4 linked regions of the Homo sapiens genome follow. The protein of the gene in region 4 purifies or fractionates together with the protein of the main gene of each other region. This does not show direct contact. Each region holds a gene or a part of one and is shown on either strand. Other genes may lie near its edges. The genes, in order: SAV1, TRIM24, MRS2 and ZNF133.

Region 1 (7,028 bases), on a different chromosome or scaffold from region 4:
ACAAATTACATATATATGTAAAATATGTATTCATATTATTCTCTTTCATATGTATTGTGTTAGGTTTCTGTAGCTGTAAAACACATTACTTCCAAACTCATTGGCATAAAACAATAAACATTTATTATCTCAGTTTCTGTGGTTCAGGATTTTGGAAGCGGCTTAGCCAGGTCATTCTGACTCAGGATCTCTCATGAAGTTGGAGTTCACACACGTCAGCTGGGGCTGCAGTTATCCGAAGCTTCGCTCTGGCTGAAAGATCCATTTCTTTCTTTCTTTTTTTTTTTTTGGAGACAGAGTCTCTCTCTGTTGCTCAGGCTTGAGTGCAGTGGCGCGCTCTCGGCTCACTGCATCCTCCATCTCCCAGGTTCAAGTGTTCTCCTGCCTCAGCCTCCTGAGTAGCTGGGACTACAGGCATGTGCCGCCACGCCCAGCTAATTATTTGTAATTTTAGTAGAGATAGGGTTTTGTCGTCTTGGCCCGGCTGGTCTCAAACTTCTGACATCAGGTGGTCCATCCACCTTGGCCTCCCAAAGTGCTGGGATTACAGGTGTGAGCCACTGCGCCCGGCCAAAAGATCCGCTTCTAAGTTCACTCACAAGGCTGTTAACAGGAGGCTTCAGTTCTGGCTGAAGGCCTCAATTCCTCACTCATGGGCTTCTCATGATATGGTATCTGGTTTCCCCCAGGGTGAGTGATGAGAGAGCAAGTACACTTGACCAAGGCAGAAGCTGCACGGTCTTTTATATCCTAATCTCAGAAGTCACACACCATCCTTTCTGCCATAAACTATTGGTCACACAGACAAGGGTGTGAATCCCAGGAGGACAGGGATAATTGGGGCCCAGGTTCACCTTACTGGCTGGCTACTACATATATGTATATATGGTGGTGTACTGTCCAGACTCTTTTTTCACATAATACATCCCGAATATTATTCCAGGGCAATAAATAGAAATCATCTTCATTCATGTTTACAGCTATATAATATAGTACTCTGTTCTGTGCGTGTAATAGTGTAATCATCCAGTTTGCTATTATTGGACATTTGGTTGATTTCTAGCCTTTTGCAACTATAGATGTTGCTGCAGTGACTAGCCTTATGCATATGCATTGTATGTTGTATTTAAATAAAAACAGTTTCTTAAACCACATGCCAATAACCCGTATTTATCCATACACTTACATATCCTTCTTTAGAATCTGAGTTTGAATTGAAGCATTTACCTTAATTTTAAAGTTTCTTCTAAATTACCTTTTGTCACTGGGGTCTGTTTCATTTGCCTTTCTTTAAAGGTAAACTTGATGTTTTCATTTTGCCTTAGTTTCCAGCCAACTGTAATTTTAAAAGCTCTTCAAAGTCAGCTGGGAACTTTTGACTAGTAGATGTTTTGCTCTGGCATGGTACTCCTTCACACCTCAATGGTCACCCAGTCTTTCTTATTTTGACCATTCTGAGATATTCTAAATTTGGCAGTTAGGGCCTTGGGTTGACTGGCAGTCTTCTGTTAACACACTAACTTTTCATTTAAATGCTGTATCCTTGTACCTTTCAGGCACAGGGATTCAAATTTATGTTAAAATTTTGTCTGGGGTGCAACTGTTACAAATAATGAGGATTAATAATAGTATGAACCACATACTGTCTTCCTAGGACTGTGTTAGAACATGCACCAGCAATGATAATACATCTGTATTTGCTGCCTAGTGGCTAACAGATTTACTCTCTTGATTATAAAAAACACCTTCGTTTCAGAACTAGTAAAATATGGGAGTGAAAGAGGCAAAATAAGTCCAAAAATCAAGGAAAATATTTATGCAGTTTCTGTCTCATTGATGTGTGTATCTCCTCCACTAATACTACACTGTCTTTATTACTGCAGCTTATTTATTTAACACTTACTATGTGCTTTATTCTGTAGACACTGTTCTAGAGACTGGAGATGTATCTGTGAACAAAACAAAGATTCCTGTCCTAAGAATCTTCTTTGTGGGATTCTTGTAGGTAAATAAACAAACTAAAATTACATAAGTTAAAAGGTTAAAGTGCTTTTTAAAAAAGTAAAACGGTAAGTAGAAGCTCAGCAGATGTAGACTGCCATAGTAAGAATAAGCTTCATTGAAACATTTGAGAAGAGGCTTGAAGAGGGTGAGAGTGAGCCAAGAGAATATCTGAAGGAAGAATCTTCTAGGGAGAATAAACAGCCAGTACCTGCCGTGTTTGAGAACAGCATCCAGGAGGTGAGTGTAGCTGGAACAGAGTGAGCTAAGGGTAAAAAAAATAGCAGCTTAAGTCAGAGAAGAAATGGAGGTCTGATCATCAGTAGGGCTTCATATTGAAAGTTATACAAGAGATAACTTTCATCAAGTAATGAGACAGTAAAGATAACTTGTACCAAATATCAAGGAAAAAACTTACTGAGCTCAGCCAGTATCACCAACCTGTGGTGAACCAAATAAATACTTCTTGTTTTAAGCCACTGAGTTTCGGGGTGATTTGTTATACATATGCTATTAGTATTCTTTTTTTTTTTGAGACGGAGTCTTGCTCCGTCGCCCAGGCTGGAGTGCAGTGGCGCAATCTCGGCTCACTGCAACCTCCGCCTCCCGGGTTCACGCCATTCTCCTGTCTCAGCCTCCCAAGTAGCTGGGACTACAGGCGCCCGCCACCACGCCCAGCTAATTTTTGTATTTTTAGTAGAGATGGGGTTTCACCGTGTTAGCCAGGATGGTCTCGATCTCCTGACCTCATGATCTGCCCGCCTCGGCCTCCCAAAGTGCTGGGATTACAGGCATGAGCCACCGCACCCGGCCAACTATTAGTATTCTTGTGTGAGAATAAAATTATGCAGCCAGATTATTCTTTTAAAAAGTATAGTAAATTTAACTTTTTTCAAGTTACACAGTTCTGAGTATTAACATATGTATAGATTTCATGTAATGCCTGTGTAATGAGAATACAGAACATTTCAAACACCCTCTAAAATTCCCTTAGGTTGTCCTCTTATAGTCAACTCCTGTCCCTCACCTCCAGTTCCTAGCAATCACTGTTTTCTGTCCTAGTAGTTTTGTGTTTGGAAGAATCTCATAAAAATGGAACTGTACAATTTGTAGCCACTTGAGACTGGCTGCTTTCCCTCAGCATGATACTTCTGAGATTCATCTTTGAGATTCTTGCATGTACCAATAATTAGTTCCATTTTATTCCTGAGTAGATTTCACTGTACAGTTGCACCACAGTTTGTTTATCCATTCTGTTAAAGGACATGTGTGTCATTTCCACTTTGGGGCAAATATGAATACAGTCATTGTAAATATCCACAAATGGGATTTTGTGTGAAGATGACTTCTCATTTCTCTAGGGTAAATATTTGGGAATGGGATTGCTGTAGCATATGAAAAGCATATGTTTAACTTTATAAGAAATTGCTAAGCTGTTCTCCAGAGTGACTGTAGCATTTTGCATCCACACCAGCAGTGTATGGGCATTCCAATTGTTCTGTATCCATGTAAGCACTTGCATTGTCAGGTTTTGTTTGGTTTTTTGGCCATTTTCATAGACGTGTATTGTCATTTCATTATGGTTTTAATTTGCATTTCTCTCACGGCTAATTATGATCCTGAGCATTTTTTCACGTGCTATTTACCATCAATATGTTGTCTTCGGTGAAGTGCCTGTTAAAAATTCTTACCCCCCTTTTTTTTAACTGGGTCGTTTTGTTTTCTTCTTCTGTTTTTGTTTTGAGAGAAGGGGTTTCACTCTGTTGCACAGACCGGAGTGCCGTAGCTGTTCACAGGCATGATGATAGTGTGCTACAGACCTGAAATCTTGGGCTCAAGTAACCCTCCTACTCAGCTTCCTGAGTAGGTTGAACTACAGGTGCGTGTCACTGCAGCAGGCTCAGGGTTGTTTTCTTAATGTTGAGTTTTGAGAATTCTTTGTATATTCTAGGTCAGAGTTCTTTGGCTAATAATGTGATTTGCAAACATTTTCTCCCTGTTTACAGCTTGATTTTCTTTCTCTTAGTGTCCTTCACAAGCGTTTTTAATCTTGACAGAGTTCAATTTAATCAGTATTTTTTCTTTATGAGTTGAACTTTCAGCATCATGGTAAAAAAAAGTACTCTTTGTCTAAACTAAACTCATGAAAATTTATTCTATTTTTTTCTTGTAAAAGCGTTATAGTTTTAAATTTAGATATATGATCTATTTTTAGTTAATTTGTATGTAAGGTGGCAGGTATAGGTTGTGATTAGGTTTTTTGCATATGGATGTCCAGTTGTTGCAACATCATTTGTTGGAAAAACCTTTCCCCGCTATTGCCCTTTCACCTTTATAAAAAAATCAGTTGACCATGTCTGTGTGGGTGTTCTTCTGGATTCTCTGTTTGGTTCCATTTATCTATTTGTCTGTTCTTCTGACAATACCATACTGTCTTGATTAATGTAGCTTTATAGTAAGCCTTAAAAATCAGGTAGTGTGAGTCCTTCAACTTTATCCCTTTTTCAAAAAAATTGTTTTGGCTACTCTAGTTCTCTTTTGCCTTTCAGTATACATTTTAAAATCTGTTTAATAACTATCTGTATCTACAAAAACTCCATGGAATTTTTTTTTTTTTTTTTTTTTGAGACAGAGTTTCACTCTCGTCGCCCAGGATGGAGTGTAATGGCGCGTTCTCAGCTCACTGCAACCTCTGCTCTCGGGTTCAAGCAATTCTCCTGCCTCAGCCTCCCGAGTAGCTGGGATTACAGGCGTCCGCCACCACGCCCGGCTAATTTTTGTGTTTTTAATAGAGACGGGGTTTCACCATGTTGGTCAGGCTGGTCTCAAACTCCGGACCTCAGGTGATCCGCTCACCTTGGCCTCCCAAAGTGCTCGGATTACAGGCGTGAGCCACTGCGCTCGGCCGGAATTTTTATTGGAATGACAGTAGTCTCGCTTTATCCATGGTTTTGCTTTCCACAGTTTCAGTTACCTCTGCAACTGCAGTCTGAAAATTGATGAATATGGTACAAGATCTTTCAAGAGAGAGGGAGAGAGATTACATTCACCCAGTTTTTATTATAATAATTGTTCAATTTTATTTTTGTTAATCCCTTACTGTGCCTAATTTATAAGTTAAACTTCATCATAGATACGTATGTATAGGAAAATACACAGCATACACAGGGTTAGGTACTATCTGCAGTTTCAGGCATCTACGGGAGGTCTTGGAATGGATCCCCCATGGATAAGGGGGGGACTCCTATAAAGATAAAGATAATTTCAGGAGAATTGACATCTTAACTTTATGTCGAATCTTCCAATCCGTTAATGTGATAGGTTTTTTATTTCTTTCATCAGTGTTTTGTAGTTTTTAGCATATTGGTCCTGCACAATTCTTTGGAGCTATTATAAATTATATTATCTCAATAACTTTTGTTTCCAGTTGTTGTTTGTTAATATATAAATATTAATTTTTGTATGGTGACCTTAACCCTGCTACCTTAAGCTTACTTAATAATTCTAGGGCACAGCCAGATTACTTTTAAGAATTTATAACCGGGAATGGTTTTACAAGTTCATTTTTACATTTTTTTTAAAGCTGAAATGTCAAATCTTTAATCAGGGGAAATTTTCTTTTTCCCACTTTTCTTTTGGCAGTATACATACTTAAGTAGCTTTACTGCCACAGGTTGATTATCCCTTACCCCAAAATGCTTAGGACCAGAAGTGTTTGAGATTTTGGATTTTTTTTTTTATTTTGGAATATTTGTATGTACATAATAAGATATCTTGGGAAGAGATCCCAAATCTGAACATGAAATTCATTTATATTTCATATATACCTTCTACACATAGCCTGAAGGTAATTTTACATAATATTTTAAATAATTTTGTGCATAAAACAAAGTTTTGACTGAATTTTGACTATGACTCATCACATAAGGTCAGGTGTGGAATTTTCTGCTTGTGGCAACATGTCAGCTCTCGAAGTTTTGGATTTTGGAGCATTTCAAATTTCAGATTTTTGGATTAGGGATGCTCAACCTGTTGTTAAGTGTTTGTATGGCCTGTTGATGGAAGCATCAGCCAAAAAACCCTCTACTAATTTCAAAGTCTAGTTCCTCCCCCTTTTTATAATTCCTTAATAGTAATACCGACTAGTTTTATGAAAACCATCATAATGGGCATAATCATGAATTTAAATAGAAGAGTACAATCAGGATAGTTAATGTTGTGACTTTGCTAGCTGGCACATTTTTTGCATTGAATAATTGTTCTGTTTCTTCTCTATCATTTTCTCTTTCCCCGTAGGTATTGGGAGAGTTGCTGCTACATCTTTAGGAAATTTGACTAACCATGGTTCTGAAGATTTACCCCTTCCTCCTGGCTGGTCTGTGGACTGGACAATGAGAGGGAGAAAATATTATATAGATCATAACACAAATACAACTCACTGGAGCCATCCTCTTGAGCGAGAAGGACTTCCTCCTGGATGGGAACGAGTTGAGTCATCCGAATTTGGAACCTATTATGTAGATCACACAAATAAGAAGGCCCAATACAGGCATCCCTGTGCTCCTAGGTACAGTATCAACTTTATTTTCAACTTTTTGTTTCGGGATTGTCTAATGTTAGGTTTTGAACTGATATTTTCATCTAAGAGAATAGCATCCTAAAGCTTGAGATTTGAAAGCCTTATATTTCAAAATTTACATTTTTCTCTGGACATACATTTAGTAATAAATGACTTTAATAAGTTAAAAAAATACTTTTCTCTTTAAAAAAACCTCAAAAACAAGATCATTGTTCTTATGATCAGATTCTGCTGTAGTAATGCCAGAATGTTTTTGTTATAGGTGTCCAGAAAATTAAATAATTAAAGCTTCTGCCTTCTTACACTTAAATTTTTACAAATAATAACAGACCTACCCCCTAAGTCAGAATGTACAATTGAATTATAACATTTTGCTGTTTATTCTATTTCAGACATGATTGTATGTTCTGTTTCTTGCTATTACTAGACAAGAAAGTGAAAATTGGGA
Region 2 (7,028 bases), on a different chromosome or scaffold from region 4:
ACCTTCCTACCTTCTTACCTTCCTACCTCGCTTTGTCGTTCAGGCTGGAGTGCAGTGGCACAATCTCAGCTCACTGCAACCTCTGCCTCCCTGGTTCAAGCGATTCTTGTGCCTCAGCTGGGCGCCACACCTGGCTAATTTGTGTTTTGTTTTAGTAGAGACGGAGTTTTGCCATGTTGGCCAGGCTGGTCTCGAACTTCTGACCTCAGGTGATCCACCTGCCACAGCCTCTGTAGGTGCTGGGATTACAGGTGTGAGCCACCCCACCCGTCCTCTTCCATTTATATTTTAAATGGTTAAACAGGCTTGTAGCCAATTAAGATCTGAATTGTGCATGATTATAGAATTATGACATATTGTTTGCCTGGCCATGACATATGGACTTGAATTAATGAGAACATGGGTCGTAAAGTTATCATCCTCAATTCTGAGACAAGTTTGTGATTCCATACTTCTCAAAATGTTCTGTGTAATTACAATCTGAATATTTTTTATCTTTATGCTGTATTGTACGCAAGAGTTCAAAGAAAGCGTTTAAATTGGAAGATGTTTTTGTTTTTATACTAGGAAAAACGTTTTAACAAATTGTACTTAAAAGTACACCTAAAAAGAATTAAAGTTATCTTTAAAAAATTAAAAATGCTATCCTGAGTCTTAGTGACTTGGGTATTTTGTCCCTTTATCTCTCCTTGCATACTTATTTTAATACTAGCTGAAGCAAAAATTTAGACTTTTTTTTTTTTTTTTTTTTTTTGAGACGGAGTCTCGCTCTGTCGCCCGGGCTGGAGTGCAGTGGTGCGATCTCGGCTCACTGCTAGCTCTGCCTCCCGGGTTCAGGCCATTCTCCTGCCTCAGCCTCCTGAGTAGCTGGGACTACAGGAACATGCCACCACGCCCGGCTAATTTTTTTATATTTTTTAGTAGAGACGGGGTTTCACCGTGTTAGCCAGGATGGTCTCGATCTCCTGACCTTGTGATCCGCCTGCCTTGGCCCCCAGAAGTGCTGGGATTACAGGTGTGAGCCACCGCAGCCAGCCAAATTTAGACATTGCTTAACTAAATAACGGGTTCATTTGATCAAACCAGTTCTTCATTTTCCTACTGAATTTGTGAGTACAGGCATCACAAGTCAAGTAATATCTATTACACAAAGGTTAAATAGGTAGTTGGGATGGAGAACTGTGTGAGCCTTGGGGTAAAATGGTAGGAAATGATGGGGAGTACAAGCAGGGGGGCAGACTCTTCTTAGCTATAGCAATTTGTCATGTGAGTGCAGGGCAAGTATTGAAGGATCTTTTATTTATTTAATGCAAATTCTGAATCTGGATTTTTGAACAAAATTTTTCTAGTATTAGATATTGTCAACTAATTAAAAATGTGTGAATATTTATACACATAAATATATATACACACACACAATTAATTTATGGGCCCATGCTATAGGCCAAACAATAGGTTTGTTGAGGCCAAATATGTTATATTTCATACACTTTTTAGATTTCAAAAACTGGAGATTTTCAAACTTTAACACCACTAAACTTTAACACCTAAAAAAAATTTAGATTTTTAGGCCCCTCCCTCCTGAAAATCTGATTCTACCTAATCTGGCGTAGTTGCAGAATGCTAGGGTATAATACAGTTACACTCTAGAATTGTTTCTTTAATGCAAGCAGTATTCTAAAACTGTTTCAGATCTAGTTTCCCTTTCTATAAAATACTTTTCATGCTCTCTTTGTCATCCTAAATGAATTTCATGGGGAAAAAAAATCCTAACACATTTTTCTTACAAAAGTAAACATAATGTTTGAACTGTTTTAAAGGAGAAATAAAATGAAGCAAATAACAGCAGAAAAGTATAATTTATAAATGCTCAGATACAATTACACTGGCCACCAAGCTCCCATTGAGAACATTTGTTTTAAAACTTCGGTTTAACTGTCCTTTTTTCTCAGGCTACATGTTGGAAGGAATGAGGGTGAATGACCACAAGTTAAAATTGGATGACTCCTTCAGTCTTGACTGTCATTTTCTTAGTATGCAGTTATATCTAGGAGAGAGGCAAAACTTTAGGAAATGGATTTTCTTTTACGTATGTTAAGAAAACAAACTGATCTTAGAGAAATGTTATAATATTGTGTAGTATTTTGTGTTGTTAACGTACTGTTCAGCTAATGAGTAGCAAACTGGGAGTTTGAGAGCAGTTTTTTCCTCTCTACCTAAAAGACAATATTGAAGAGCTATTTTTAACAAATACTGAGAACATACTTTTGAAAGGTATTATTTGTCTAGAGAGGGTTAAAATATAAGACTAAATCCCTTTTCCAAGATTTCTTTACTAACTGGCAGTATACAAGATACGTAACTATTCTGGGACTGATTTCTTGGCAAAAAGTATAAATCATCTCATGAGTGCAATCTTTAATGGCAAAGGATTAATATTTAAGAATGATCTGTGTTACCTGTCAGTCCTATATATATAAAAATATACATATTTTTATTCACCTGTTAGTAGGTATCAGTATTTTTTAGTTTGGAGCTATTATGAATAAAACTTAAAGGTATTTGTAGAAAAGTCTTGGTGTGGATACATTGTCATTTCCCTGAGGAAATAACTTAGAATTGGAATTTCTTGTTTTTATGATAAATGTATGTTTACACTGCTTGTACTACTTTATAGACCCTCCAGCAGTTCTCTCCAAAGTTTGTTCACACTCTCCCCAGTTTTGGGTATTGTCTTTAAAAGTTTTTTTTGTTTTTGTTTTTGAGACGGAGTCTCACTCTGTCGCCCAGGCTGGAGTGCAGTGGTGCCATCTTGGCTCACTGCAACCTCCACCTCCAGGGTTCAGGCGATTCTCCTGCCTCAGCCTCCCAAGCAGCTGGGATTACACTACACCTGGCTAATTTTTTTGTATTTTTAGTAGAGACAGGGTTTCACCATGTTGGCCAGGCTGGTCTTGAACTCTTGACCTCAGGTGATCCACCCGCCTCGGCCTCCCGAAGTGCTGGGATTACAGGCGTGAGCCACTGTGCCTGGCCTGTCAGTCTGTTAAATTTTAACCATTCTAGTAGGTGAGAAAAGCTATCTCATGGTTTTGGTTTTCATTTCTCTGATGAATAATGATGAGCATCTTTTCTTGTGCTTAGTAGTCATTCTTTTTTGGTGAGATTTTGGTTTGTCTTTTGCAAATTTCAAAACTTAAGTTGCTTTTTTTTTTTTTTTTTTGGAGACAGCATCTCACTGTGTTGCCCATACTGGAGTGCAGTGGCGCCATCTCAGCCCACTGCAACCTCCGCCATGTTGCTCAGGCTGGTCTCTCAACTCCTGAGCTCAAGTGATCACCCATCTCGTCTCCCAAAGTGCTGGGATTATGGGCGTGAGCCACCACGCCTGGCTGGGAGTTTGCCTTTTTATTGAAACGTAAAGTTCTTTATATATATTCTATATCTAGGTCCTTTGTCAGATACATGTATTGCAGGTATTGACTCTGGCTTGCATGCTCATTTTCTTGGTGTCTTTTGAAGAGCTAAAGGTTTAAATTTTGATTAAGTCTGGTTTATCAATTTATTTTATGGTTAATGACTTTTGTGTCCTATCTAACAATTTTTTGCCTACCCCAAGTTTACTAAGATTTTCTCCACTTTTTAACCCAGCATTTTTATAGTTTTAGCTTTAAAATATAAACCTGTAATCCATTTTGTGAGTTATTTTTTGTGTGAGGTTGAGGTTCATTTTTTTAAAAACTGTATGTTAAAACACCATTTATTAAAGACAGTACTTTTTCATTATATTATTTTGGCATTTTTATACAAAAATCAGCCATCTGTGTGTGGTCTGTTCTTTATTGATTTGTCCATTCAGCTAATACATAATGTTTTTTGATTACAGTACTCTTCTCAGCAAATTTTGAAATTTGACAGTTTGTTCTTTTTCAAAATTCTTATGATTCTTTGAAGTCATTTGCATTTCTTTACATTTTAGAATCAGCTTTTCAGTTTCTACACAAAAGTCTGTCATGGTTTTGATTGGAATTACATTGAATCTAGATATCAATTTGGGTAAGGGGGAATGTGTTTTGTTTTGTTTTGTTTTGTTTTGTTTTTTTGAGATGAGTCTTGCTCTGTTACCAGGCTGGAGTGCAGTAATGTGATCTCTGCTCACTGCAACCTCCGCCTCCCAGGTTCAAGTGATTCTCCTGCCTCAGCCTCCTGAGTAGCTGGGACTATAGGCATGCGCCACTACGCCCAGCTGATTTTTGTATTTTTTAGTAGAGACGGGGTTTCACCATGTTGGCCAGGATGGTCTCGATCTCTTGACCTGGTGATCTGCCCGCCTCGGCCTCCCAAAGTGCTGATATTGACAGGCGTGAGCCACTGCACCCAGCCATAATGTTCTTAACAATATTGGTTCTTCCAATCTGTGAATATGTGTTATCTCTTAAATTCTCGGCACTGTCTTGTGGTTTTCATTGTAGCATTCTTGTACAATTTTTGTTTACATAGTATAAATATTAAACATTTTATAATGTTAAATGATATCGTATATGATATTTTTAAAATTTTCATTTCAAACTGTTGGTAGTATATTGAAATACGATTATTGGTTTCATCCCATTATCTTGCTAAATTCGATTATTAAGTATCTTTTTTTTTTGTTTCAAGGACTCCTTAGGATTTTCTATGTAGTCTACAGGGAGATAGCTTTACTTCTTGCTTTCTATTCTTAATAATTTATGTCTTCTTATTGCACCAGCAAGGACTCCAATACAATATTGACTAGAAGTTGAATTTCAGTATTAAATGAGAAAGGATTTCCTTACCTTATTCCTCATCTTAGGAGGAAAACACTCAATTTTTCACCATTAATATGTTAGCTGTTTTCTATAGATGCCCATTATCAAAATGAAGAAGTTCCCTTCTATTTTTAATATGCTGAGAATTTTTATTATGAATGGGTGATGAATTTTGCCATGTACTTTTCCTGTGTCTATTGAAATGGTCATGCAATTTGTCTCCTTTTTTTGTTAATGTATGAATTACGTTGATTTTTAGATGTTAAATCAATCTTGCATTCTTGAGATATACCTCACTTGGTTTTGCTACAGGTATTTTGAAGCTTTTATGAATTGCCTGCCCTTTTTTAAGGTGAAATGTTCTTTGCTTCCTATAATGCTATGTTATGGTCTACTTTGCCTGATATTAATGCCATTGTTTTTTTAATCTATGTGTTTGAATGGTATATTTTTCCCATGCTTTTACTTCTAGCTTTTTAAAGTATCTCGTAGATAGCGTATAGTTGTCTTACTTTTTTATCCCAGCTTTTAATTTTTGCTTTTGTTTAATCCATTTATATTTTATGTAATTGTTGGTATGGCAAGGTTTAAGACTGACATCTTTTTATTTGTTTTCTCTTTGTTCCTGCTTGGCCTCCAGTATCTTTGCTTCTCTCTCAATCCCTTAGCAGCTGCTCTCTGGTAAACTTCCCATGGACTTGCTCTGCACATGCGTAGTAGCCTTCAGCCAAGGACTTGGCAAAACCCTTACATAGACTACTGGCACCCTTTCTCTGTTCAGCTCCCTTCTCCCAAGTGCTTTGCCCTATATATTCCATCTGGTTCACAATCCCCGAATCTCTCTGGCTCCTTTGCTATGTTCTGCATTGGCTGTAGCTCCATGAACCATGATCACAAAATAGTCCTCAGTTAGGGAATCAAGATTTAGGGGGCTTATTCACCTGAGCTTTTCTTTCCTCATGGATCACAGTACTGCATTGCCTTTTGTCCATTGTCTGAAAAGTTGCCTAAGGTATCTGTCCTGGTAATATACAGTAATTAATGACAGGAAAGCTTGTCTCAGTACTAGTTACTCTATTCCTGGTGGAAAACTGATGTCAGAAGAATGCTTTTTAATTTCATTGTACCTTTTTAAATATACCCAAATGTGGGTAATTTGTAAACTTTCATTTTTAGGTCTCTAGATTTCTCTGTTTAATTTTTCTTCAAGAAGTTAAACTATCAACTAGATGCACAAGTTTTTCAAATTTCTTTCTGCAATGTAACCTTGACCCCTTTCTCAATTTTTTTTTTTTTTTTTGAGACAGTGTCTCGTGCAGTGGCCATCTTGGCTCACTGCAACCTCCACCTCCCCGGTTCAAACAATTCTCCTGCGTCAGCCTCCCAAGTAGCTGAGATTACAGGCACACACCACCACACCTTGCTAATTTTTTTGTATTTTTAGTACAGACGGGATTTTACCCTGTTGGCCTTGAACTGCTGACCTCAGGTAATCCACCTGCCTCAGCCTCCCAAAGTGCTGGGATTACAGGTGTGAGCTGCCGAGCCCTTTCTTAATTTTACTCCAGCATTTTGAATACACACTTAGACCAGTAGTCTCCAAAATGGCATGACTAAGTGCCATTATATTTTATTCTGTAATGTGGTGTGGCACACCACATATGCAATAAAATATCCATTCAGGTGAGGGAAGACATTAGAACTTCTTTTCAGAAATTGAGCTTTAAAGTACTTGATATATAGTTTGTCACAGTCACATGAATAAGCATGTCAAATGGCTACATTTCACATATGCTGTATGGAGTATCCTGAGAGAAGGGATTAAGGCTGCCTCAAGCCCAAATGGTATTTGTGTGAGTTAGAAATTAAGAGTCCTCTTGACATACAGGACCAAAGGATGTGTGCCTTAGGAAGTGGAATGTGGACCCCCATTTGCCTGTAAGTCTACATTTCCCCTCCAGTCAGGCAGTTCCTTGTACTGTATAACCTATCTTAACTGTACACAGCTGCCCTAGAGGTCATGGGATTTCGATACTGCAGACTCTGTTGTTTGTTTTTGCCTCCTACAAGTATAATTTTTTTTTTTTTTTTTTTTTTTTTTGAGATGGAGTCTCTCTCTGTCACCAGGCTGGAGTGCAGTGGTGTGATCTTGGCTCACTGCAACCTCTGCCTCCTGGGTTCAGGCGATCCTCCTGCCTCAGCCTCCCAAGTAGCTGGGAGCATAGGCGTGTGCCACCA
Region 3 (7,028 bases), on a different chromosome or scaffold from region 4:
ATGCAAGAGTTGGTGCTGGGAGCATACTAACCAGAGTGGGAGGAGGAGAGAGGGTAGAGAGGACATGAGGTGCATTGGGTTGGGTGAACCTGGCACACTTTTCTTTTGTCTGCCTTGCTCTGAAAGAATAGATGGCTACACTTCCTGCTTGGGGTAATTAATGAGCACCAGCTAGCACCAGCCAGTGAGATGATAAGTAGTGGGAGCCCAGTTACCAAGCAGGGGGAAAGCAGAAGAGAGAAAGAAGATGTAAACAGTGGTAAGTCATGGGCTCCACAGGCTGGGTAAGCTCTCAGGAGCTCATGCTGTTAGGAGAAAGACAGGGATCTTAAAGGGAGCAGGAGGGGAAGGAGAGAGGCTAGGCTGGCATGGGTCTCCGGCCTAGAGATTGGCTGTGGGGAGAATAGAGAGGGAGTTCAGGATGTCTGCTGGGATACACATTCTTCTTCCTTTAAATGGGGTCCCAGGAAGATTTCCTTACGAAACAACACTACATAGAAGCAAGACCAGCCACCTCTCAAAAGGGATAAGTTTTCGAACAAGGGAAAGCTCCCCAAACCCACCTAAGGGACCAAGACATACCATGAGTAGATATGCCTCACAAATACCCTATCTGTGACCCTCAGCAGCCTCCCCAACCACTACAAAAGTCCACACCTTGCTGAGCAGAGGGTTTGATATCTCTTAGATTAAAAGATGTGGTCTGCCTATTTGGCTGTCCAGTCTTCCCTCCCACCCAAGGACTTCTTAACCCGGAAGCAGTTCCTCTGGAGACGAAATAAACAACATGTCTGCAGAGGCACTGTGACTCTGGACTTGTTTCCAAATAAAAAAATCTGTTTCACAGTAATTGTGCTTCTGAGATAAAGACTATATGCTGTAATTTACGTCATCAGTTTTACCGCTTGATTTAGTTAGTATATGCTATTTGCCAACTGGCATGGAAGTGTTTCAGTATTTTAACAACTATATAGCAGGATTAGTGCATACCTGCCGAATATCAAATATCAAACCATACTTGTGTTAACCTAAATAGTCTATTTTTGACTTTACTCTGATATGTTTATGTTTTAAAGCTCAAGTTTTTATTTTCAAAGAGCTTTGTAGGAATTTTGAACCATATTCTGTTTACAGAGAACACAGGTATTACTGAAAGCTTGTGTTTTAATAATAGCAGATTTTATTTTACTTGATCCCTCATTACTTCATAATGAATGTCTATAGGAGAAAGACTTTTTTTTTTAAATTTTTTTAGTATTTATTGATCATTCTTGGGTGTTTCTCGGAGAGGGGGATTTGGCAGGGTCATAGGACAATAGTGGAGGGAAGGTCAGCAGATAAACATGTGAACAAGGGTCTCTGGTTTTCCTAGGAAGAGGACCCTGCCGCCTTCCGCAGTGTTTGTGTCCCTGGGTACTTGAGATTAGGGAGTGGTGATGACTCTTAACGAGCATGCTGCCTTCAAGCATCTGTTTAACAAAGCACATCTTGCACCGCCCTTAATCCATTTAACCCTGAGTGGACACAGCACATGTTTCAGAGAGCACAGGGTTGGGGGTAAGGTTATAGATTAACAGCATCCCAAGGCAGAAGAATTTTTCTTAGTACAGAACAAAATGGAGTCTCCTATGTCTACTTCTTTCTACACAGACACAGTAACAATCTGATCTCTCTTTCTTTTCTCCACATTTCCCCCTTTTCTATTCGACAAAACCGCCATCATCATCGTGGCCCGTTCTCAATGAGCTGTTGGGTACACCTCCCAGACGGGGTGGCGGCTGGGCAGAGGGGCTCATCACTTCCCAGACGGGGCGGCCGGGCAGAGGTGCCCCTCACCTCCCGGACGGGGCGGCTGGCCGGGCGGGAGGAGAAAGACTCTTACGAGAGTTAGCTCCTTGTCAACCAAATCTGTGCCTAAAGATAACATCATACATAGTTCTTTGAACCCAGAGGATCTAGTTTTTGAATCATCTGGAATAGGCATTCTAGAATTATCTATGTTCTGAAATGTTACCAGCATTTCAAGCTACTACAGATTTCTGTATTTAATCAGAGGATTCACTGATCCTGAATATTCTAAAAAGATTGTTTTAATTCTTATGAAAGGTCATGTTGTTATCTAGATCAACACCCTTCAGGGGAAACTTAGCATTTTGCAGCCACTGATCCTTGAGACCTTGGATGCTTTGGTGGACCCCAAACATTCTTCTGTAGACAGAAGCAAACTGCACATTTTACTACAGAATGGCAAAAGGTAAATATGGATGATGTATCACATTGGGAGTTGGAGACAAATATCTTAAAATCAATTATTAACATTTTGTTTCATAACTTTTTTTAAAGTATGAAAGTAGCCTAGGTGGGAAGTTGAGCTAAAAGGGGCACACAATCTACTGTTTGTTGAAAAGATACTTTGCATGAAATGTCATGTAAGGCTCTTTTCCGTATGTGATCTCATCTCATCACCCATTCAATAGTTGATATTGTCTTCATTTTGAAGATGAGAAAATTGAGGTTTGAGTAACTTGCCTAAATTTATATGGCTAGTAAATGGCAGATCTAAATCCAAATTCAAAGTCCATGTTGTTCTTTTTCTTTAAAATCATAATGCATTCCAGAATTTAATAACAATATTATATATGTATCATAAATAGAATAAACATGCTCTCAGGAGTTATACTCCCGAAATCCCTTCAAGAATTAACATTTAAAATTCCTGAATCAGTAGTTTCTTATCCAAAAATGTTGGAGTGTTTTTATCAGTTAAGAGTAACTAGTCTGTTCTATATTATCACTGCCATGTTGATTAATAAAATTCCCAAACCAAAAATCTTAAATTCACAAGCGATTTATGTTTCTGAGATAAGTAATGTATGATGAAATTTATATCACTGATAATTTTACCAATTAATTTAGATCTGGTTTGGGTTTTTTGTGGGTGTTTTTGAGACAGGGTTTCACTCCGTTGCCCAGGCTGGAGTGCAGTGGTGCAGTCTCAGCTCACTGCAGCCTTGGTTTGGGTTTTTTGTGGGTGTTTTTGAGACGGGGTTTCACTCCGTTGCCCAGGCTGGAGTGCAGTGGTGCAGTCTCAGCTCACTGCAGCCTTAACCTTCAGCAATCCTCCCACCTCCACCACCCAAGTAGCTGGGACTGCAGGCACATGCCACCATGCCCAGCTAATTTTCTAAATTTTTTTGTAGAGACAAGATCTCACTGTTGTCCAGGAGGGTCTCAAACTCCTGAGCTCAAGCAATCCTCCTGCCTTGGCCTCCTAAAGTGCTAGGATTACAGGCGTGACACCATGCCTGGCCAAATTGATTCTTAATTTGCCTGGTAAATACTCAACTTTTTTTTTTTTTTTAAATAAGTCATTGTTTAGCATGAATGTATAAGATAATATATTTGATAAGATACTCTAAAAACACTATTATGAAATGTTCTTATAAGTTTATTCTATTGATCATTTTTGTGTATCTATTTCTTATAGTCTATCAGAGTTAGAAACAGATATTAAAATTTTCAAAGAGTCAATTTTGGAGATCTTGGATGAGGAAGAGTTGCTAGAAGAGCTCTGTGTATCAAAATGGAGTGACCCACAAGTCTTGTAAGTATATAATTATACTTTGTTATTTATTTCCTTAGAGTAAATCTTTTGCCTTTTCCACTTCAAGGTGATTTTTCATACAGAATGTAACATTTTTCTGGACTACAGAATATAGAGATTTTTCATCCCCAGTTTCCCTTTTTTCCTGTGCAGTATCGTATCTAATTCAATGTAATTCTATGAGTATGCATACTGCATACCCAACACTGCTGACATGTGGTGAATATAAACACACAGTTACCTTTATATTCAAGGGACTGACCACCAGATTGGCATATACATCTACCAAAATAACTTACCTAGGAAGCAGAGTGGGAGAGAAATTTACATGGGGGAGGGAAAAGATGGGGTAAATACACGAGTAACACATTAACATGGATTATGTAAGTTCAGTCTAATGAAAATGTTAATCTTATAAACCTTTTATCTTTTATGAATTTAGAAATTGTTTATGCTTCTTGTGCACACTCCAGCTAAATGTTTACTTTTAAATACCCAAATATTTTGTTATTGTCTTTCTAGAGCAGTATCAGAAATTAATACACCTTTGTAATGAGTTTAGTTTCCACAGTCTGTACAGATTTTCTTACAGCACTTTGAAAAATTGGTTATTTATATCCTGATAAGGAAATAATAAGATAAAGGGGGCTATATAACATTTGGTAGATAGCCGATAGGTATGGTAGCAGAAACTGTTTGCTTTGCTTAGGCCAATCTGTCAATCTGTCTCTAATATGCTTTATGATACAGGTACCTCTTCAGAGTACTTCATTCCCCCTTACCCTTCTTGGTAGGGTAGGGGAGCAAAGTTATTACTGATATCATTCAAAAACATTTTCTTTATATGAAATCACATTATGTACACACCTCAAAAGGAAATGGTCTTGACATTTTTAGTTGTGGATTTTGTTTTACCTGATAGTGGTATTGGCTTTGCACTAATTCATCTGCATTCACATATCTGGATTTTCCTGTAACTGGCAGCATGTATCTGCATAAAAATCTCTTGGATTGGGGCCATGTAATACAGTGACACCAACTGGTCTACATAAGGATGGAACCTCTGTCCTCAACTCATCTGTAAAGTGTTTTGGATCAGTTGACATAGGTACTCACAGATTGGCCACAACAATAGAAAAGACAAAGGCAGCCAGGCGCTGTGGCTCATGCCTGTAATCCCAGCACTTTGGGAAGCCGAGGCAGGCAGATCACAAGGTCAGGAGTTCGAGACCAGCCTGTCCAATATGGTGAAACCCCATCTCTACTAAAAATACAAAAATTAGCTGGGCGTGGTGGCGGGCACCTGTAGTCCCAGCTACTGGGGAGGCTGAAGCAGGAGAACAGCTTGAACCTGGGAGGCAGAGGTTGCAGTGAGCCGAGATCGCGCCACTACACTCCAGCCTGGGAGCAGAGTGAAACTCCATCTCAAAAAAAAAAAAAGACAAGACAAGACAAAGGCTAGCTTTTCCACTGGTAGCTGAATGCTATATACTAATTTAGGAAGTTTTTGTCACTAAGTATATGATACACATGTTGGGAGTATGTTAATTATTTTCTCTTTTAATTGAAGTGAAAAGAGCAGTGCTGGGATTGACCATGCAGAAGAGATGGAGTTGCTGTTGGAAAACTACTACCGATTGGCTGACGATCTCTCCAATGCAGCTCGTGAGCTTAGGGTGCTGATTGATGATTCACAAAGTATTATTTTCATTAATCTGGACAGGTAAGAAAGCATTATATAAAACTAAGTTTTTTTAATAAAATAATTATAAGAAAGTTTTTAAGGAAATATTTTGTGAGGAATTACGCCATCATTATCATCTATACTACATTATTATTATTTTTTTTGTTGTGTAGGTTTCATCCATGTGGTCTGTATAGATTTGATGAATGTGCTGTATATAGTTAGTGGGCCCTTCTAATCTGAATAGGTGTTCTCCTCTCCAGCCACCGAAACGTGATGATGAGGTTGAATCTACAGCTGACCATGGGAACCTTCTCTCTTTCGCTCTTTGGACTAATGGGAGTTGCTTTTGGAATGAATTTGGAATCTTCCCTTGAAGAGGTGAGAATGTATTATTATTTCTAAAACTTGGGGGTTTTGGCCGGGCATGGTGGCTCATGTCAGTAATCCTAGCACTTTAGGAGGCTGAGGCAGGTGGATCACCTGAGGTCAGGAGTTTGAGACCAACCTGGCCAACATGGCGAAACCCTGTCTCTACTAAAAATACAAAAATTAGACAGGCACGGTGGCAGGCACCTGTAATCCCAGCTACTTGGGAGGCTGAGGCAGGAGAATCACTTGAACCCGGGAGGCGGAGGTTGCAGTGAGCTGAGATCGCGCCGTTGCACTCCAGCCTGGGAGACAGAGTGAGACTCTGTCTCCAAAAAAAAAGATTGGGTTTTGAAGATCGATATTTTTAATGGATTTAAAAAATAAAGGCTGGGCACCTTGGCTCAACGCCTGTAATCCCAGCACTTTGGGAGGCTGAGGCAGGTAGATCACGAGGTCAGGAGATCGAGGCCATCCTGGCTAACCCGGTGAAACCCTGTCTCTACTAAAAATACAAAAAATTAGCCGGGCGTGGTGGCAGACGCCTGTAGTCCCAGCTACTCCGGAGGCTGAGGCAGGAGAATGGCATGAACCTGGGAGGCGGAGCTTGCAGTGAGCCAGGATCACACCACTGCACTCCAGCCTGGGCGACAGGACAGAGTGAGACTCTGTCTCAAAAAATAAATAAATAAAAAGTCTAACCTGTAAACTACCATGGTGAAATAAAATATATAATGTAACTCACAATTCAGGCAGTACTGTTGGACCATGTTATAACCTAGATAAATACAGCCTAGGTTACTTTGTTTCCCAAAACATATAATTACAGATGGGAAAGGTGTGATAAAACAGTGTCTCTGTGAAGCAGTGTTAATGAAGAGTTTTTATTTTTTAATTCTTACATGTCTGGCAACGTACCAGGCGGTTTGCATACTTTATTTGGCTCAATCATTGCAACTCTGAAAATAGATATATTATCCCTACTTTGTAGATGAGAAGACTGAGGCTCAGAACATTTAACTTGCCCACAGGCATAGAGCTGGAAAAATAACAGAATTAGGACATGACCCCAAAGACTTGCACTTTCTACTGCTCTGTTGCCTTTCTGTATTAAGATAATACTTAACTCCCAGAGTTTTTCATTTCACTGTGGTTTTGTACAGTCATCCCTCAGTATCCAAGAAGAATTGGTTACAGGATCCCCACAGATACCAAAGTCTGTGGGTATTCAAGTCTCTGATATAAAATGACCCAGTACAGTCAACCTTGCATATCTGCAGATACAGAACCCACTGACTGTGTTTTCACAGAATAGCTTATTGTAAGTTTTCTAGAACTGAACCTGGATGTGCATCTGGCACAGTGTGATGC
Region 4 (7,028 bases):
CTGGCTGGATTGAGACAGGGATTTAAAAGTCTTGGAACACATGGCACCAGGGTCACTGGGATCTTGATATCTCACCTGCCTCCCCCAGGGCAGCCTTATCCCTGCCCCTCACCCTGCCATGGGCAAGGCTGGCTTCTGAGTGAGCAGGGCTCAGTTTTGTGTTACAGGCACACATGGCATTCAGGGATGTGGCTGTGGATTTCACCCAGGATGAGTGGAGGCTGCTGAGCCCTGCTCAAAGGACTCTGTACAGAGAGGTGATGCTGGAGAACTACAGCAACCTGGTCTCACTGGGTAAGCCTGATATCTGTTAGGATTCCCATTCTTATTGCTGGGAATTTTAGGCTATGCTTGAAGCAGCCATCTTGCTTTGTTACTTGACCTTTGGGTTGGACCAAAAAGCAACTACATTTTATTCGTGTTTCCCCAGGGAGGGTCTGATTTTGCAGAGTGGAAAATGGGTAGATTTGTTGTGTGTGTGCATATGTGTATTGTGTGTGCTACTCTGCATTTCTAGGCCTTTTTTCTCAGGCTGGGGTTCTCATCCTATGTTAACTTGTTTTAAATGAGAGGGGTGTTCATCTACTCGGCATGGAATAGAATCAGTGTACTCTCATCTGAGTTCACTGCCCACTCATCCCTTCCATTTCTGAGAGCCCCACTCACCTCTTCCAACTCAGGGCTTTGTACTACCTTTGAAGTTTCCTAGGCTGTTTAGCTTTGAATTCTTGAATGGGCTCTTGAGCCCATAACCTAGTTACTTATTTTCTTTTCCTGTGAGCAGGAATTTCATTTTCTAAACCAGAACTCATCACCCAGCTGGAGCAAGGGAAAGAGACCTGGAGAGAGGAAAAAAAATGTTCACCGGCAACCTGTCCAGGTGAGTGGGAAAACACTGGACAAATGAGACATGAGCTCAGCAGCTCAGAGGACTGGGGGAGAGGAGGCGTTGCTCAGGTGCTGGGGAGGGAAGCTGTTCCCCTGACCTCCTGGGCTGCTGTTTAGATTGCCTGACACGGCCTCCCTTCCAGATCTCCATCTTCATTCGAGTATGGACGGGGCTTTCCTGGTGTCTCGTCTCCTTCCTCCACTAGGAAGCCTTTTTTCCTCCCAGTGGGTTTCTCCTCTCTAGCTCACTCAGTTCTCTTTCATATATATGGGCTTCTTTCTCTTGTTACTGTTTTTTAAAAAGATCATCAAGAATATGGAAACAACTGTGACCTACAGAAAGAAGGCAAGCCCAGTGGGAGGAAGAAATCTAAAAAGCCAATAGAGAAATTGAAATGGAATTCTAAAAAAAACTGTGAGCTATTCAAGAATGGCTTTTACATTTTATAATGTTATATAAATATCTATATAATATCCTTAATTTTGCCTCTTAACCATCAAAGCCTGAACTATTTACTATCTTTAAGAAAAAGTTTGCTGGCCCATGCTCTAAGGGAGTACAATACATAGCCTTAACTTTTTATATTCTATTAATACTTAATCTGGGTAAAATATAAAATGTAAGAGCATTGCAATTACACAGTTCCAATCACCCCCCCTCCCAACATCCTTTGTACTATAATTGTCATTTGTATTATACACTCCTTATTACAATGTTAAAATGTTTGTTTTAAATGTTCATCTGGATTTGTTTTCTACAATGTATTTTTTTAATTAAGAGAAAAAATAGTCTTTAACTTATCCAGATAATTTATCATTTTCTGTTCTTTTTGTTTGTTTGAAAATCCGAGTTTACCTTTGGTATTATTTTTCTTGAACCTTAAGGACTTCATTTGGCATTTCTTATGGTACAGGTGGCAGTGTATTCTCTATTGCTTCTGAAAGTGTCTTTATTTTACCTTCATTCTTGAAGTGTATCTTCGCTCGATGTAGAATTCTACATTGGTTATTTTTTCAGCACGTTAAAGATAGCATTCCATTGTTCTGCCTGCCATTGTTTCTGATGGAGAAGTCACCATGAACATAATTTAGCTTTATTTCCTTTGGCTACTTTTCTCCATACTTTTGGTATTCAGCAGTTTCACTGTGATGTGACTGCCTTAAGTACATTCTTCCTTTACATGTTTTTATCTGCCTGAATCTCTCTGTCCCCTTTTGGGACTATAGGCACATGTATATTAGTCCTTTTTATATAATCCCACAGGTTATAGATCCTTTCCATATTTTTAAATCTTTTTTTTCTCTCTGTTCTTTAGACTGGATGATTTCTGTTGGTCTGTCTTCAAGTTTACTGTCTCATTTGTCATTTCCAATGTGCTAAGCTCTGGCCAGTGAATCCTTCATTTCACTTATTTTTCAGTTCTGCAATTTCCATTCACTTTTACTACACTTTTCTTTGTGGTGAGATTTCCTATCTGTTCACTAATTATAATTAAATTTTACTTTATCTTCTTTAAATCAGACACTAAGTGGATAACTTATTAAGTGAAAAAGTTATAGGATTTTGTATACTATGCAGTTGAGTTTGTTGTTAAACAAAGAGAAGTGTATGAAAGAGTATATATCCATATGTTTATGTGAACATAGAAGTCTGTTGTTATTTACCATTACTAGTGGTTACCTCTGTGGGGATAGAATTGGGGAGGGTTGGACAAGGGGCTGCTGAGAATTTTTCATCCTACTTTGCATTATTTTTAAATGACAGACACATAGATAACTTTAAGAAATTATATATGTGCTTTAATTTTTAAAATTCTTTTGACAGTTTTATAAATGTTTGCACAGAAGTATATATTTTCTTTTTCTGGGTAAGAAATTTTCTCCTCTTGTTTTTATTAAATTGATTAATTCTGTCTTCAAATTGAGGGACCATAGCATACATAATATAAATTGTCGCTGTTTTTCAACTTGCTTGTATCCTTACTGTTCATCTGTTAGAAGGAATCCTAAAGCTCTCCACAGTCGTAATTTATATCAACTTCTCCATTTATTTCTAAGTTTTTGTGTTATATTTCACTTTATTGTTCTATTAGGTATAGAAAGGTTCAGGATATTTTTATCTTACTCATTAATGAAGTTTTTAATGCTGAAATTCTCTTAGTTCCATGAGCTATTGTTTCCTTTAACTTCCTCTTTATTTCTTTTTAGTCTTAGCACTGTACTTTCTGGTGCATCTTTTTGGTATTTTATTGTTCATCCTTTTATTTTAAAATAAAAACATTGTCATTTGGGTGTTTTGCTTTTAAGCAGCAGCATGTAGCTGGTGTTGCATTTGCTGTCAAACCAAGTGGTGTTAACTTTTAATAGTGACTTTACTTAATAACAGATAAATTTCATGAGACTTGCTCAGGGGTTGACTGAGGCAGATGAGTAGGTGTTTTACTACAGCAATAGGAAAGAAGGAAGGTCAGGGCAAAGGAAGTAAAGCATCTGTATTAGTCACCTTGGGCCGCCATGACAAAATACTGTGGACTAGCTGGCTTAAACAACAGAAATTCATTTAGTTATAGTTCTGGAAGCCAGAAGTTCAAGATCAAGTTGTCAGCAGGTTTGGTTGCTCTGAGTCCTCACTCCTGAACTTACAGATGGCCACCTTCCCCCTGTGTCTTCACATGGCCCTTTCTCAATGCTCACACATCTTTGTCGTCTCTTCCTCTTCTTAAAAGGACACCAGCCCCATTGGATTAGGGCCCACCCTTACGACCTTATTTAACCTTAATTACCTCTTTAAAGGCCCTGTCTCCAAATACAGTCACATTAGGGATTACAGCTTCAACATAAGAATTTGGGGGAAACACAACTCAGTCCATAACAGCATCCTTGTGAGAGCACCATAGTGATTTCATAGACTCTCCGCCGAATATATAGTTCCATAAAAGGTCAGTTGGATATGTAAGTCCATTGGATCTCAGTTGTATGAAGGAGTAAAGATGAGGGACTGGTGTATAAGCTGAAAGGTCATGGATTGGAGCCCCAAATAAGGTCAGGAACCAATGTGCCCATGGTGCTTGAGCAAAGTGAGTCAGAAGGTAGAAGAAAAGGCTGTGTCAGAGAAGGGAATGTGCACAGGAGAGAATGTGAAGATTGTGCAGTGTCTGTGAACAGCATTCACAGTGCAGGTGAGGTCAGTGTTGCTGAGAAGTTGGAGTCTTAGCCAGAGGCTCAGCCCTGTGGAGCACCCTGAGAGTGCTGACAGGTATTGGTGTGGAGAGGATGTGAGGCTGGTAGGTGATCAAATATTCAGGGCAGTGTGTGAAACCAGGAGACCTGTGGATGGTCCTAAAAAAAGTATGGTAGGTAATGGTGTGGAAGCCACATTACAAAACAAGGACATTCATCCCACTGTGTAATGCTTGAGATATGAAAGGAAGAAGCTGTCTATCTACTTGAGGGAATCTTACAAAAATCTTCCTCTCAAGGAACAAGAGAGGTGTCTAGCCAAGGACATGGAAGGAATGTTGGACAGAGAAGGAGAGGATGTAGGGGCATTATCTGACCTGTGTGTTCATTCTAGAATTGGCAGGTGGAGGCTGGGAAAATGCTATACACCCTGACCTTTGTACATTTACACAAATATGTGTTTTCTCAACCTGAAAAGTATAGAATTATCAAAACATTTATATTAATAACAAGCAGCTTACCTATCATTGTCTTAAAGCGAAACCTATCTTTTTTGTCTCGTTTTTAATCCTTGTTTTAATTTAAAGAAAAACAGCAGCTCTTACAATGATGTTGAGCACATTAAAAAGAATGCTGTACAATCCAAGGAGCAAGTCATTGTGGTTGCCCAGGAAGCTGTCTTGGAAACCCAAAATATATGTGTAACGGGAGGAAGACTGTTCTAGGTATAAAATACATCTTAACGGTTTCATTATTCTATATTTGGGACTTGGATTTAAGACAGGCAATATCAGAATCCTCAAAATAGGCTAGTTACAAGAAAAGTATTTAATTTTCTCGGCTGTTTCATTAATCAGAATGCTAATTCAATAAATGTAACGGAATCATTTGCAACAACATGGATGAACCTGGAGGATGTTATGTTAAGTGAAATGAGCCAGTCACAGAAAGACAAATACCACACAATCTTACTTATATGTGCAGTCTAAAAAGGTTGGACTCATAGAGAAAGAGAATACAATGGTGGTTACTAGGGGATGGGGGTGGTTGGGGAAGATGTTGGTCAAAGGATTTTCACATAGAAAGAATAAGTTCAAGAGATCTATTGTATAACATGATGACTACAGTTAATAACAATATATTGTATTCTTGAAAATCACTAAGAGTAGATTTTGGGTGTTCTCATCACAAAAAATGATAGGTATGTGAGGTGATGCAATATGTTAATTAGCTCAATTTAGCCATGTCACAATGTATATATATTTCAAAATGTACACAATGAATATATACATTTTTTGTCAATTTAAAAATTAATTAGTTTTTTAAAAGTAACAGGAGTTACCATAATTATGAAGAATTATATGCCCTCCTGAAGTGACTAATCCTTGTTATTTATATTGACTAAGAAGCCTGGTAAGAGGTAACACAGAAGCCTAAGAATGAGAACTAAAGCCAGGTGCTGTGGCTTGCACCTGTATTCCTAGCTACTCAGGAGGCTGAGACCAAGGCAGGAGGATCACTTGAGGCCAGGAGTTCAAGACCAGCCTGGGCAACATAGCGAGACTCTGTCTCTAAAAAAATTTTTATAATTAGCCAGGGTGAGGTGTTGTGTGCCTGTAGTCCCAGCTACTTAGGAAGCTGAGGAGGGAGGATTGCTCGAGCCCAGGAATTTGGGCTACGTGATCTATGATTGTACCACTGCACTTCAGCCTGGGCCACAGAGTGAGATCCTATCTGTAAGAAATTTAAAAAATAAAGAATGAGAAATTGGATATCTGGTGAGGTAAAAATAGAGCTTTTATTTCTAAGTTGAGTATACAAAAGACAAAAATTAGTTATTTTTCATATGGAGGACAGAAATACACCAAGTTATAATTCTTTTTTAGTTACCAGTATTATTGTCAAGTTTAAGCTTTTTTCTGTTTATTGGCAAGCTAAATAATTGTACATGTTTTTAAGCATATATAGTGTTGATGGACGGTATTTAAAGTTTTAAGTTTCAGTCTCAAATAATTAACATAAGGCTGATCTCATTAGTTTAGGCAAAAATACAAGTAAAATTATTGCATGAGAACACTTTGTATAGTTTTGTTTTTGAATTTTTTAACAAAAATATTTATTCTTATAATGATTTCCTAACAGAGATCTTAGAAATTGAAAAACAACTTAATCAGTCTTAAGTTAAAAACTGCCTGAAAAATATGCCATTTCTGGTATTTACTTTGAGTAAAGTAATTGTAGATTCACGTAATTTCTGGCACTGTCTGTAAATTATAAGATACTAGTTGGACACATATATCTACATGTGCCTAATCTTACATATTTATGAAGGCAATATTAGCCTATCTGATTTTTAAAATCAGTATAGGTTGACTCTCCCTTATCCAAAATGCTTAGGACCATAAGTGTTTCAGATTTTGGGTTTGTTTGGTTGGTTGGTTGGTTGGTTTGCATTTTGGAATATTACCATAAACATAATGAGATATCTTGGGTATAGGACCCTAGTCTAAACAGGAATTTCATTTATGTTTTGTGTACACCTTGTACACTTGGCCTGAAGGTAATTATATTTTTCCTTTGAGGATGCTGAATAAACTGAATTTTATGTGCCTGTGTTTTGACTATGACCTGTCACATGAGATCAGCTGTGGAATTTTCTACTTGTGGCTGCATGTTGGTGCTTAAAGATTTTCAGATTTTGGAACTTTGCAGATTAGGGATGCTGAACCTATATATTAGTCTTGGAAGTTTAGATTAGTTAAACTTTCTTTGAGAAAGCCTACATATCAGAACCAAGTTTTATATCACTAGAATATTATGCTAATGTTATGTTTACACTGATAAAATAAGGGAAAAGACATTGCATTTGTCTTATTTGCAGGCTTTATCTTACTTTGAAATATTGATTCCACCCTTTAGTTACATACCAGCTAGTAAGGTTGTTTACATATTGTAGTAAA

What was found.
Region 1: the proteins of ZNF133 (region 4) and SAV1 purify together in Homo sapiens (affinity purification with mass spectrometry; 2 studies listed by BioGRID and IntAct, with this or other methods). This does not show direct contact.
Region 2: the proteins of ZNF133 (region 4) and TRIM24 purify together in Homo sapiens (affinity purification with mass spectrometry; 2 studies listed by BioGRID and IntAct, with this or other methods). This does not show direct contact.
Region 3: the proteins of ZNF133 (region 4) and MRS2 purify together in Homo sapiens (affinity purification with mass spectrometry; 2 studies listed by BioGRID and IntAct, with this or other methods). This does not show direct contact.

The regions. Positions count from the first base shown.
Region 1 is NC_000014.9:50,644,284-50,651,311, reverse strand, and holds part of SAV1 (protein salvador homolog 1), read left to right. Parts: intron 1-1,922; coding exon of another isoform or gene 1,923-2,005; intron 2,006-6,297; coding exon 6,298-6,568; intron 6,569-7,028. UniProt on the Homo sapiens protein: Regulator of STK3/MST2 and STK4/MST1 in the Hippo signaling pathway which plays a pivotal role in organ size control and tumor suppression by restricting proliferation and promoting apoptosis.
Region 2 is NC_000007.14:138,463,259-138,470,286, forward strand, and holds part of TRIM24 (transcription intermediary factor 1-alpha), read left to right. Parts: intron 1-7,028. UniProt on the Homo sapiens protein: Transcriptional coactivator that interacts with numerous nuclear receptors and coactivators and modulates the transcription of target genes.
Region 3 is NC_000006.12:24,412,910-24,419,937, forward strand, and holds part of MRS2 (magnesium transporter MRS2 homolog, mitochondrial isoform b precursor), read left to right. Parts: intron 1-2,106; exon of another isoform or gene 2,107-2,123; coding exon 2,124-2,254; intron 2,255-3,487; coding exon 3,488-3,604; intron 3,605-5,174; coding exon 5,175-5,327; intron 5,328-5,551; coding exon 5,552-5,669; intron 5,670-7,028. UniProt on the Homo sapiens protein: Magnesium transporter that mediates the influx of magnesium into the mitochondrial matrix and regulates magnesium metabolism. Also permeable to calcium, sodium and potassium ions.
Region 4 is NC_000020.11:18,305,514-18,312,541, forward strand, and holds part of ZNF133 (zinc finger protein 133), read left to right. Parts: intron 1-154; exon of another isoform or gene 155-167; coding exon of another isoform or gene 168-173; coding exon 174-294; intron 295-757; exon of another isoform or gene 758-784; coding exon 785-880; intron 881-1,192; coding exon of another isoform or gene 1,193-1,303; intron 1,304-4,655; exon of another isoform or gene 4,656-4,765; coding exon of another isoform or gene 4,766-4,793; intron 4,794-5,847; exon of another isoform or gene 5,848-7,028. UniProt on the Homo sapiens protein: May be involved in transcriptional regulation as a repressor.